2 separate regions of the Homo sapiens genome follow, and region 2 is linked to region 1. Evidence: fine-mapped expression QTL. Tissue or cell type: visceral fat. Region 1 holds a variant in brackets; the other region holds the start of a gene. All regions are shown on one strand. Distances are between the middles of the regions. Region 1 has its middle 22 kb from the start of TTYH1. Region 2 holds the start of TTYH1 (tweety family member 1).

Region 1 (5,151 bases):
TTTCCATCTCCACGCTACACATGGGGAAATAGAGGCTCACAGAGGAGAAAGGACGTGGTTCAGGTCACACCTGTCCCTGGTCCTCCAGGCTGAGGAGCAGAGAGACCACCCACCTTAGTGCTGGAAGGGTTTAACACATAGCTTGGGCTCCCTCTTGTGGCCACAGTGGAGAAACTCCCTGCTTAGTTCATTTTTATTTTTTCCATCTGGCATTCATTTTTTTCATTCAGTAAGTATTTGTTGGTCCTGTCCTGTGTGCCAGACACTGTTTGAGGCTCTAGAGGTCCACCAATATAGAAAACAAACACCCTTTCCATGGAAGAGCTTATATTCTTGCAGAAGGAGAGGGGCAGTAACCCACAGGCATTATACAGTCACAGTCAGCTAGAAGGTGAGAGTGATTTGGATAAATGAGAAAGTGCAGCGGTGGTCCAGGGGGTCTGGAGGGTGCAAAGCTCAGCAGGGGGAATAGTGTGGCAGTTGCAGACAGAGGGGTAGGAAGAGGGAAGTGGCAGGAAGAGAATGCAGAGGGGTGAGGGTTGGGGCCACAGGTCCTGTGTAGAGCCCTGTTGGTCACCATGATCACCCTGAGTGAGCTGGGAAGTAACACAAATGACTCCAAATAGAAGCGCCTTCATGGAGCCTTCTTCTTCCCAGACTTCAACTAGAAACCTGAGCTGCCTGTCACAGCAGGGGACGTGTCATCCCATTAGACTTCAAACGTCCTCAGCAATTCCCTGCCCCCTTCTTTCTAGGAGTCAGGATTCCTCAGCCTTGCTCTAGAACTGCATCTGGTGACCCCTAGAAACCTGTCCTGGAAGCCTTACAAGGCTCTTCACACTCACAGTTTGTGATATGACCCCAGAGTTGTGCAGTGCACAACCTACACAGCTGGACACGATGGGCCTGGCACTCTTCCTCTGTGCTCCCACTGCACTCTGTGCTGACTATGTCATTCCACTGGGTGGTGCCATGTCAACTTCTCTCCTCTCCTCTCAATATCCTGTAAGGATAAGATAGGATCAAAGTTCTACCCACGTCCCTGGTACTCAGAAGAGGAGCTGAAACATTGGCGACCACTCATTAGCACTCTACTTAACAAAACAAATTGCCCAGGTAGTTATGATTAGATTTCTATAAAAGGCTGAATAATTACAGAAAGGCTCTAGAAACTAGTGTATAATTATGTACAGGCGCTGGCAGTGTGTAGAGTCATGGAAATCAGCTAAGGAATCGCGGTGCAGTCTCAGGAACCAGCTGGATAATTGCACCAGGAGCTCCCAAAACCAGCTGGATAATTATAGTGGAGTCCCTGGAACTCAGCGGGTAATTACCATGTACTCATGGAATCAGCAGTAATAATAGAAGGGTCCCAAATGCAGACACTAGGGAAAGTCTGGAGACACTTTTGATTGTCACAACCCAGAGGAGAGGGGGATGCTTCTGGGTGGTGGGGGGTGGAGGCGGGGGATGCACAGGACAGCTCCTCCCCCAAGGAATAACCTAGCCCCGAAAGTCAACAGTGTTACCCAGAAAAAAACAGGGTTCCTTTGCCTGGTGAGGAGCAAACAACTCTCCCGAGAATGCAGGTGATGTGGTTTGGCTCTGTGTCCCCACCCAAATCTCACCTGGTATTGTAATGATCCCCACGTGTCGATGGGGGGCAGTGACTCACGCCTGTAATCCAAGCACTTTGGGAGGTTGAGGCAGGCAGATCATGAGGTCAGAAGATCGAGACCATCCTGGATAACACAGTGAAACCCGTCTCTACTAAAAATACAAAAAATTAGCCGAGCGTGGTGGCGGGCAGCTGTAGTCCCAGCTACTCGGGAGGCTGAGGCAGGAGAATTACTTGAACCTGGGAGGTGGAGGTTGCAGTGAGCTGAGATCACGCCGTTGCACTCCAGCCTGGGTGACAGAGCGAGACTCCGTCTCAAAATAATAATAATAATAATCCCCACGTGTCATGGGAGGGACCTGTGGGAGGCGACTGAATCACGGGAGCAGGTTTTTCCCATTCTGTTCTCGTGATAGTGAATAAGTCTCACGAGATCTGATGGTTTTATAAATGGGAGCGCCCCTGCACGCTCTTTCTTGCCTGCTGCCATGTAAGACGTGACTTTGCTCCTCCTTCATCTTCCGCCATGATTGTTAGCCCTCCCCAGCCAAGTGGAACTATGAGCCCATTAAACTTCTTTCCTTTGTAAATGAACCAGTCTCGGGTATGTCTTTATTAGCAGCATGAGAACAAACTAATACAGAGGTTTTGATCAAGAAGAGTTTTATGACTTGACACAGCTAAGGAAGGCACTGGGTGTATTCTTCAAAGCAGTGTCTCCCTGAGGAAAAGGGACAGGAGGGCTCTATGGGGTGAGGGAGCAGGGAGAGGGCGCGTCGTTGTATGTGGAGGAGGGTCCCAGTCACGCAGATGCAGCGAGTCGTCATACCAGCACACGGGTCGCATGTTACGGTAACGAGACTACAGCTCCTCCCGGGATGGAGACTTGAGCGCAGCAGTGCAGAAAGTTCACTCGGGTTCATCTCTAAGTTGCCAGGGCCCGTCAGAGGCTGGTTCCAACCAACGAGTGGCCGCATTCCACACAGGGTTTGGAGAAAAACAGGCTGCAGGGCAGAAGGCTGTGAAACAGGCTGATTGCTCAAGTTGATTAAATTCCTATAATCCCTGGAGACCCTCCCTGTCTCCATACAGTAGTGCTTGGGTTGAGAAATTTTCTTTAAAAGACTATTTTTAGCCGGGCGC[A/G]GTGGCTCACGCCTGTAATCCCAGCACTTTGGGAGGCCGAGGCGGATGGATCACGAGGTCAGGAGATCGAGACCATCCTGGCTAACACGGGGAGACCCCGTCTCTACTAAAAACACACAGAAAAATTAGCCGGGCGTGGTGGCGGGCGCCTGCAGTCCCAGCTACTGGGGAGGCTGAGGCAGGAGAATGGTGTGAACCCGGGAGGTGGAGCTTGCAGTGAGCTGAGATCGCGCCACTGCACCCCAGCCTGGGCGACAGAGCGAGACTCCGTCTCAAAAAAAATAAAATAAAATAAGAATAAGAAGAAGAAAGAAGAAAGAAGAAGAAGAGGAAGAGGAAGAGGAAGAAGAGGAAGAGGAGGAAGAGGAAGAAAAATGTTTTAAAAAGACTATTTTTAGAGCAGGTTCAGGTTCATAGTAAAATGAGGGGAAGGTAGAGATTTTCCATGTACTCCCTACGCCGACACCTACATAGCTTCCCCCATTACCAGCGTTCCCTACCAGAGCGGTATTTTTATTACAACTGATGAGCCTGCATTGACACATTGTAATCACCCAAAGTCATATTAGGGCTCGCTCAGTCTTCCTGTTGCACATCCTATGAGTTCAGGCAAATGTCTAATGGCAGGCACCCACCGTCACAGTGTTAGACAGAGGAGAGCCATTGCCCTAAAATTCCTCTGTGCACCACCTATTCATCCTTCCTTCGCCCAACCCCTGGCAGCTCTGATCTTTTCCTGTCTCCATACTTTGCCTTTTCCAGAATGTCATATTGTTGGAATCAGACAATGCGTAGCCTTTTCAGATGGGATTCTACCACTTGGTAATATGCATTTAAGGTTCCTCTGTGTCTTTTCATGGCTTGAGAGCTCATTTCTATCTATCTATCTATTTATTTATTTATTTATTTATTTACTTATTTACTTATTTATTTATTTTTGAGATAGAGTCTCGCTCTGCTGCCCAGGCTGGAGTGCGGTGGCTGTGATCTCGGCTCACTGCAAGCTCCGTCTCCCAGGTTCAAGCGATTCTCCTGCCTCAGCCTCCCGAGCAGCTGGGATTATAGGCACCTGCCCCCACGCCCGGCTAATTTTTGTATTTTTAGTAGATGGGGTTTCACCATGTTGGTCAGGCTGGTCTCGAACTCCTGACTTTAGATGATCCACCCGCCTCGATCTCCCAAAGTGCTGGGATTATAGGCGTGAGCCACCATGCCTGGCATCATTTCTTTTTCTTTTCTTTTCTTTTCTTTTTTTTTTTTTTTTTGTTGTTGTTGTTGTTGTTGTTGAGGCAAAGTTTCACTCTTGTCGCCCAGGCTGGAGTGCAGTGGCACGATCTCAGCTCCCTGCAACTTCCGCCTCCCGGTTTCAAGTGATTTTCCTGCCTCAGCCTCCCAAGTAGCTGGGATTACAGGCGCCTGCCACCACGCCTGGTTAATTTTTGTATTTTTAGTAGAGATGGGTTTCCCCATGTTGGCCAGGCTGGTCTTGAACTCCTGACCCTGTGATCTGTGGGCCTTGGCCTCCCAAAGTGCTGGGATTACAGATGTGAGCCACCGTGACTGGCTAATTTTTGTGTTTTTAGTAGAGATGGGGTTTCGCCATGTTGGCTAGGCTGGTCTCGAACTCCTGACCTTGTGATCCGCCCGCTTCGGCCTCCCAAAGTGCTGGGATTACAGGCATGAGCCACTAGAGTCTCTTTGTGAAAAGGAATGGAAGGATGTGGTGTGATGCAGCACGCATCACCAGGTCCCTGTCATAAATTTGCTTTTGTGGCCGGGCGCGGTGGCTCACGCCTGTAATCCCAGCACTTTGGGAGGCTGAGGCAGGCGGATCCCCTGAGGTCAGGAGATCGAGACCAGCCTAGCCAACATGGCGAAACCCCATCTCTACTAAAAATACAAAAAATTAGCCGGGCGTGGTGGCAGGCACCTGTAGTCCCAGCCACTCGGGAGGCTGAGGCAGGAGAATAGTTTGAACCCGGGAGGCGGAACTTGCAGTGAGCCGAGATTGCTGCACTCCAGCCTGAGCGACAGAGCGAGACTCTGTCTCAAAACAAAACAAAAAAAGCTTACCCTCCATGATGCAGCAATCCCACTACTGGGTATATGCTCAAAGAAACTGAAACCAGTGTGTGGAAGAGATGTCTGCACCCCTATGTGTATTGCAGAGTTATTCACAATAGCCAACATATGGAATCACCTAAGTCTCCATCAGTGGACAATGGGTAAAGGAAATGTATATATACACAGTGGAAATACTATCCAGCCTTAGAAAGGAAGGAAACCCTGTCATTTACAGTATGGATGTAATTGTCAACCTTCAGGACATCATGCCACATGAAATAAGCCAGATACAGAAAGACAAATATCGCACAACCTCACTTATACAT
Region 2 (5,151 bases), 22 kb after region 1:
GGACTCTAAGATGAAAAACTACTTGCCTAGAGTCACTTAATACACCTCTAACCGCTCATCTCGGGATCTTCTTCATCCCCAAGCCCCATGTAGGCCACCTGGTTGGGAATGGTGGAGAACATGACTCTAGCCAGAACCAGAGAAAGCTGAAGAAGACCTAGGGTAGTGATGAGAGAGGGTGTGTGTGTGTGTGTGTGTGTGTGTGTGTGTGTGTGTGTGTGAGAGAGAGAGAGAGAGACAGAGATAAGGCGCCTATTCTCACTCTCCCATTTCATCATCAATACCTTCACCAATATCACTATCCTCCTCCTCACCGTCATCATCATCGTCCTCATCACCATCATCACCACCATCATCATCATCATTATCATCATGACATGTCAACATAATCTTGTCTTCACCACCATCATCATCATCACTATCATCATCATCATATCCTCATCTTCACCATCACCATCACCACCACCACCACCATCACCACCACCACCACCATCACCACCGTCACCACCATCACCATCACCAACATCATCACCACCATCACCACCATCACCAGCATCATCACCACCATCACCACCATCACCACCACCACCATCACCACATCACCATCACCACCATCACCACCACCATCACCAACATCATCACCACCATCACCACCACCATCACCAACATCATCACCACCATCACCACCATCACCAACATCATCACCACCATCACCACCATCACCATCACCAACATCATCACCACCATCACCAGCATCATCACCACCATCACCACCATCACCATCACCAACATCATCACCACCATCACCACCACCACCATCACCAACATCATCACCACCATCACCAACATCACCACCACCATCACCACCACCACCACCATCACCAACATCATCACCATCACCACCATCATCACCACCACCATCACCACCATCACCACCACCACCATCGCCACCACCATCACCATCACCAACATCATCACCACCATCACCATCATCACCACCGTCACCACCATCACCACCACCATCATCATCATAATTATCATCATGACATGTCAACATAATCATGTCTTCACCATCATCATCATCATCACCATCACCATCATCAACACCACCACCACCATCATCATCACCATCACCACCATCACCATCATCATGACATCATATCACCAACATAATCACCACCATCATCGTCATCACCACCACCTCCGCTACCACCAGCATTCCTCTTTTCCCTAGCCCTTTCTTGCCAATCTGGAGCAAAATATGGAAATGGGTTAAGTGGAGAACTAATCTCCCTTTCTTCCACTCATCCCAATTCCCACAAGAGAGGCCACGTGTGTGGTTTCCAGATGGCAAAGTCTCACCCTGCCCTACAGCAAGAGGGGACCCCTGGGGCCAGATTCCTGAGCACCTAGTTTTGGCTGCAATAGTGACAGTCTGGGTGATGATGTCAGGGTGGCCAGGTCCCCTCCCAGGGTTGGCACTTCCCCATCTATCGGTGTGGCATCGGAGGATTCCAGTGAGATGTAACATGGGGAGTGGCTGGAAAAATACTCTGTAACTGTATGGCGAATGCCAAGGGGCAGGGGTCCTTGTATACACCGAAGTAATCCCGAGTCAGTTTACAGGATGGGAAGGGCCCCTATATAGATGACCAGGGTCCTTATGCAGGTAGAAGGGGTCCTTATGCAGCATGAAGGCTTGCTACACAGGCGTGTGGATTTTTCCATACATTCTGGAGTAGCCTCTACACATAGGAGTGTTTGTGCTTAGAAGCTGTGTCCTTATGCAGGCTAGGAATAAAAGTGGGACGGAGATTTTACACAAATACGGGCATCTTTTACAGGTGGGAGCACTTTCGTACACAGAGGACTTCTTATCCATGGAATTGGCCGTTCTTTGTAAAACGCTCTGTACTTACTAGCAACCTTTACACAGACATGAAGTTTCTCCATAAGGATAAAGGGATCATTATGTTTTAGGTGAAATAACAGTATGAGTGGCCTCGTATGGACAAGGAGGGCTGATTTCAATCGCGATGCAAGCCAGCTGTCCGGATGCCGCCGACGCCAGCAGCGCGGTACCTGCGCGGGCAGCAGGTGGGAGCCGCGACCGGGGTGGGGCGCGGAGCGCTGGGGGCCTCCCGACTCCCGCAGTCCCCGCCGCGACCACCAGGGGCAGCACCGTCCCCGCCCGGCCCGCGCCTCCCTCCCCCCAATCTCCGCCCCCCACCCCCTGCCTCCCCCCCGCTCCCGCTCCCCTGAGCCCAGCCAGACCCCGCGCCGCCCGCGCCCCGCTCGACTCCGGAGGCTCCCGCAGCCCCGGCGTCCGCCCCGCTGCCCCCTCCCCCGGGGGCCATGGGGGCGCCCCCGGGCTACCGGCCCTCAGCTTGGGTGCATCTCCTCCACCAGCTGCCCCGCGCCGACTTCCAGCTCCGCCCGGTGCCCAGCGTTTTCGCGCCCCAAGAGCAGGAATACCAGCAGGTGGGACCGGGCGCCAGGGCCTGGGGGCCAGGGCTGGGGGCCGGAGCTCCTGGGTCCCGAGGGAGAAGGGGGCTGGGTCACAGATTTCCTGAGCTCCGCCGGAGGCTGGGGGCCGGCCCGGACTTTGGGGTTTCGGAGGGAGGAGGAGCCTGGGGGCGCCCATGCCTGGAGGTTCTCCTGGGACGCGCGCTGGGGGTCCAGACCTCGAGCTCTCTAAATAAGGGAAGGCTGGGGACCTGCACCCCTGAGTTCATGGAGAGGAGGGGAGGGGGGCCCGGATTCCCGGGTGTCTGATACCTGCCTGGGAAGCCGGCCTCCAGGGTCATCGGGAGGGTAGGTCTACTCTTCCTGCCCTAAAAGATGACCCTGCCCCACAGGATCAGAGCAGGTGAATATGTCCCAGATAAGGTGGGACCCAGGAGACAGCGGACCTGATAACGGTGGCGGGGAAAACGCTGGCTGCTGCGGTGCTGGGATGGGATTGAGAGTCTGAAATGGGGAAGGGGGCTTCAGGGGCTGAGGACCAGGGCTGGAAAATGAAGGGGCTCTGGGAGAGGAAGCTTCTTGCCCGTCCCAAGAAAGAAGGGGTGGTCAGGGCGCTGCAGGGGTGAGGGCCGAGATGAGGCTGGGTTTGGGGAGCCTCGGGATGACAGACCCGGGTCCCGAGGGTGGGGCCGGTGTGGGAACCTCACAGAAGCCGGTGTCCCTGGGGAAGGGGCCCGGCTCGGGGCAGCTCCAATGGGCGAAAGAGCTGTCCCCTGACCCAGTTTAATTCAAGTCCTTGACTTCGAGATTAATGAGGAGAAAGGCTTGGCTGAGCTGGGGACGGGTGGGGGTGCTGGGAGTCCCGATGTGGCCCCAGGACGGGTCCTGGCCCTGCTGATGGGGCCTGAGCCCCTGGGCTCCGTCTTGGGTTGCTCCTGGGAGAAGGGGGCTGGGATTGGAGAGCTCAGGGGGCGTGGAGGGGGTCCCAGAAAAGCGCGGAGGGGATGAGTGCTGTGTTCTGAGCTATTTGGGTCACGGCTGGCACAGCCCTGAGCAGCTCTTCCCCGCCTGCTCCTCGCCGCCCCCTCTCCCCACACACGGGGACCGCCGTCCCCTCGCCCACAGCCTCGCGGTTACACAACGGCCACCTCCAACAACGCCGCTCCACCGGCTCCGGCCTCGGCCCAGACTCACGCCCGCTCTGGCCCGGAGACCTCCCGAAGCCGCACGCGGGGATCCGCGGCCCCAGTCACCGCCAGAGGCACGGGTTTGGGGGAGCCTCACTCCGCCCCCACGGTCGGGGGTCAGGGTCAGGGTGGCAGGGATGCGCGGGCAGAGCCCCACAGCCGAGGAGGGCAAGGGGGACCCCTGCAGGGACGCGACCACCGTGGGTACAGCTGCAGACACAGCCAGGGCCTCAGGGACACTGGCCCGGGGGAGGCACACAGCCACACGCACACACTCACTGGCATATGCACAGCACACACACACGTCCACTTACTCCCATTACACACTCACATGCACACACATATGCACAGGCACACCCAGACACGCCCACTTATTCCAACACACTCACATGCACACACATATGCACAGGCACACTCAGACACACCCACTTACTCCCATTACACACTCACATGCACACTCACATGCACACACTCAGACACGCCCACTTACTTTCATTACACACATGCACACACACATATGCACAGGTACACACACACGCCCACCTACTCTCATTACACACTCACATATGCACACACACATACCCATTTACTACTCCCGCTATGCACTCACACCCACATACAACACACGCATATAGACACATGCATACACTCACATGGATATACCCACTTACACATACACAATCACACATATGCACACGCACATTGCGCACAGTGACTCACAACACACACATACACATGTATAAGCATTTACTCCCATATACAAGCACACACTGCACTTATATATATATGCTTACACACTCATGCATGCACCGTCACATACACGTTTATACTCCCATACACACACACACGTACATTCCATTCACATCTACACACACATGCACACACATATTGACTATAGCATTCATGTGCACACACACACTCACATGCAGTCACGCATCCACACACACACTCATCCACACTGTTACACACACACAACCGGACCCACTCACAGGCCCAAGGAACTGTGCCCAGAACACACAAATGCCCACAGATGTTCTCATTTGCAGACAGCAGTGCACCCAGGAGACACACTCAGGTGCCCCCTCATCTCATGGAGACAGCCCAAAGATAAAAACATCCAGTCTCAACCAGAAACACAAACACTGCACACACTTGGGACACACACACACACACACACTGTGCCACTGTGTGTGTGTATGTGTGTGGACAAAGGCAGAAACACCGTGGTTTAGGGGAAACAGCCTTGGCAAGTCCAGAGGTGTGACTCTGATCCCAATGTTGTCCCTCCATGCTCCGGGGCTCAGTGCAAACCCCCTGGGCCACTGTGGGCCTCTGGGACCGCACAGGTCAGCTGTGAAATCCCCGCCACGTGGAGAGCCCTGTTATTCTGCAAGGCTCTGCCCACCGCAGAACGTTTCCGCGGCCTGCCTGTCTTCCGGGCCTTGGCTCTCTCCGCCTCTCTGTCCTTGTGTGTCTCTCCCGTCTCCATAGTGTTCTC

The links. PIP is the estimated chance that this variant, and not a neighbour inherited with it, causes the effect. A credible set is the group of variants that fine-mapping cannot tell apart.
Region 2: TTYH1 starts here. The variant in region 1 is the best candidate, but not a certain one, in a credible set for the expression of TTYH1 in visceral fat (GTEx, PIP 0.66).

Annotation. Positions count from the first base shown.
Region 1 is chr19:54,391,028-54,396,178 of GRCh38, forward strand. No RefSeq gene overlaps it. Among named protein-coding and RNA genes, the nearest start is that of TTYH1, 22 kb to the right of the region's middle. RefSeq lists an enhancer at 422-969. The variant A/G (reference allele first, on the strand shown) is at 2,762.
Region 2 is chr19:54,413,198-54,418,348 of GRCh38, forward strand. TTYH1 (tweety family member 1) reads left to right here and starts at 2,267. Exons shown (of 14, transcript NM_020659.4): 1 at 2,267-2,481. The coding sequence starts at 2,356. LOC124904770 (LIM domain-containing protein A-like) reads left to right here and starts at 3,905. Exons shown (of 1, transcript XM_047439797.1): 1 at 3,905-5,151. The coding sequence starts at 3,939. The coding sequence ends at 5,144.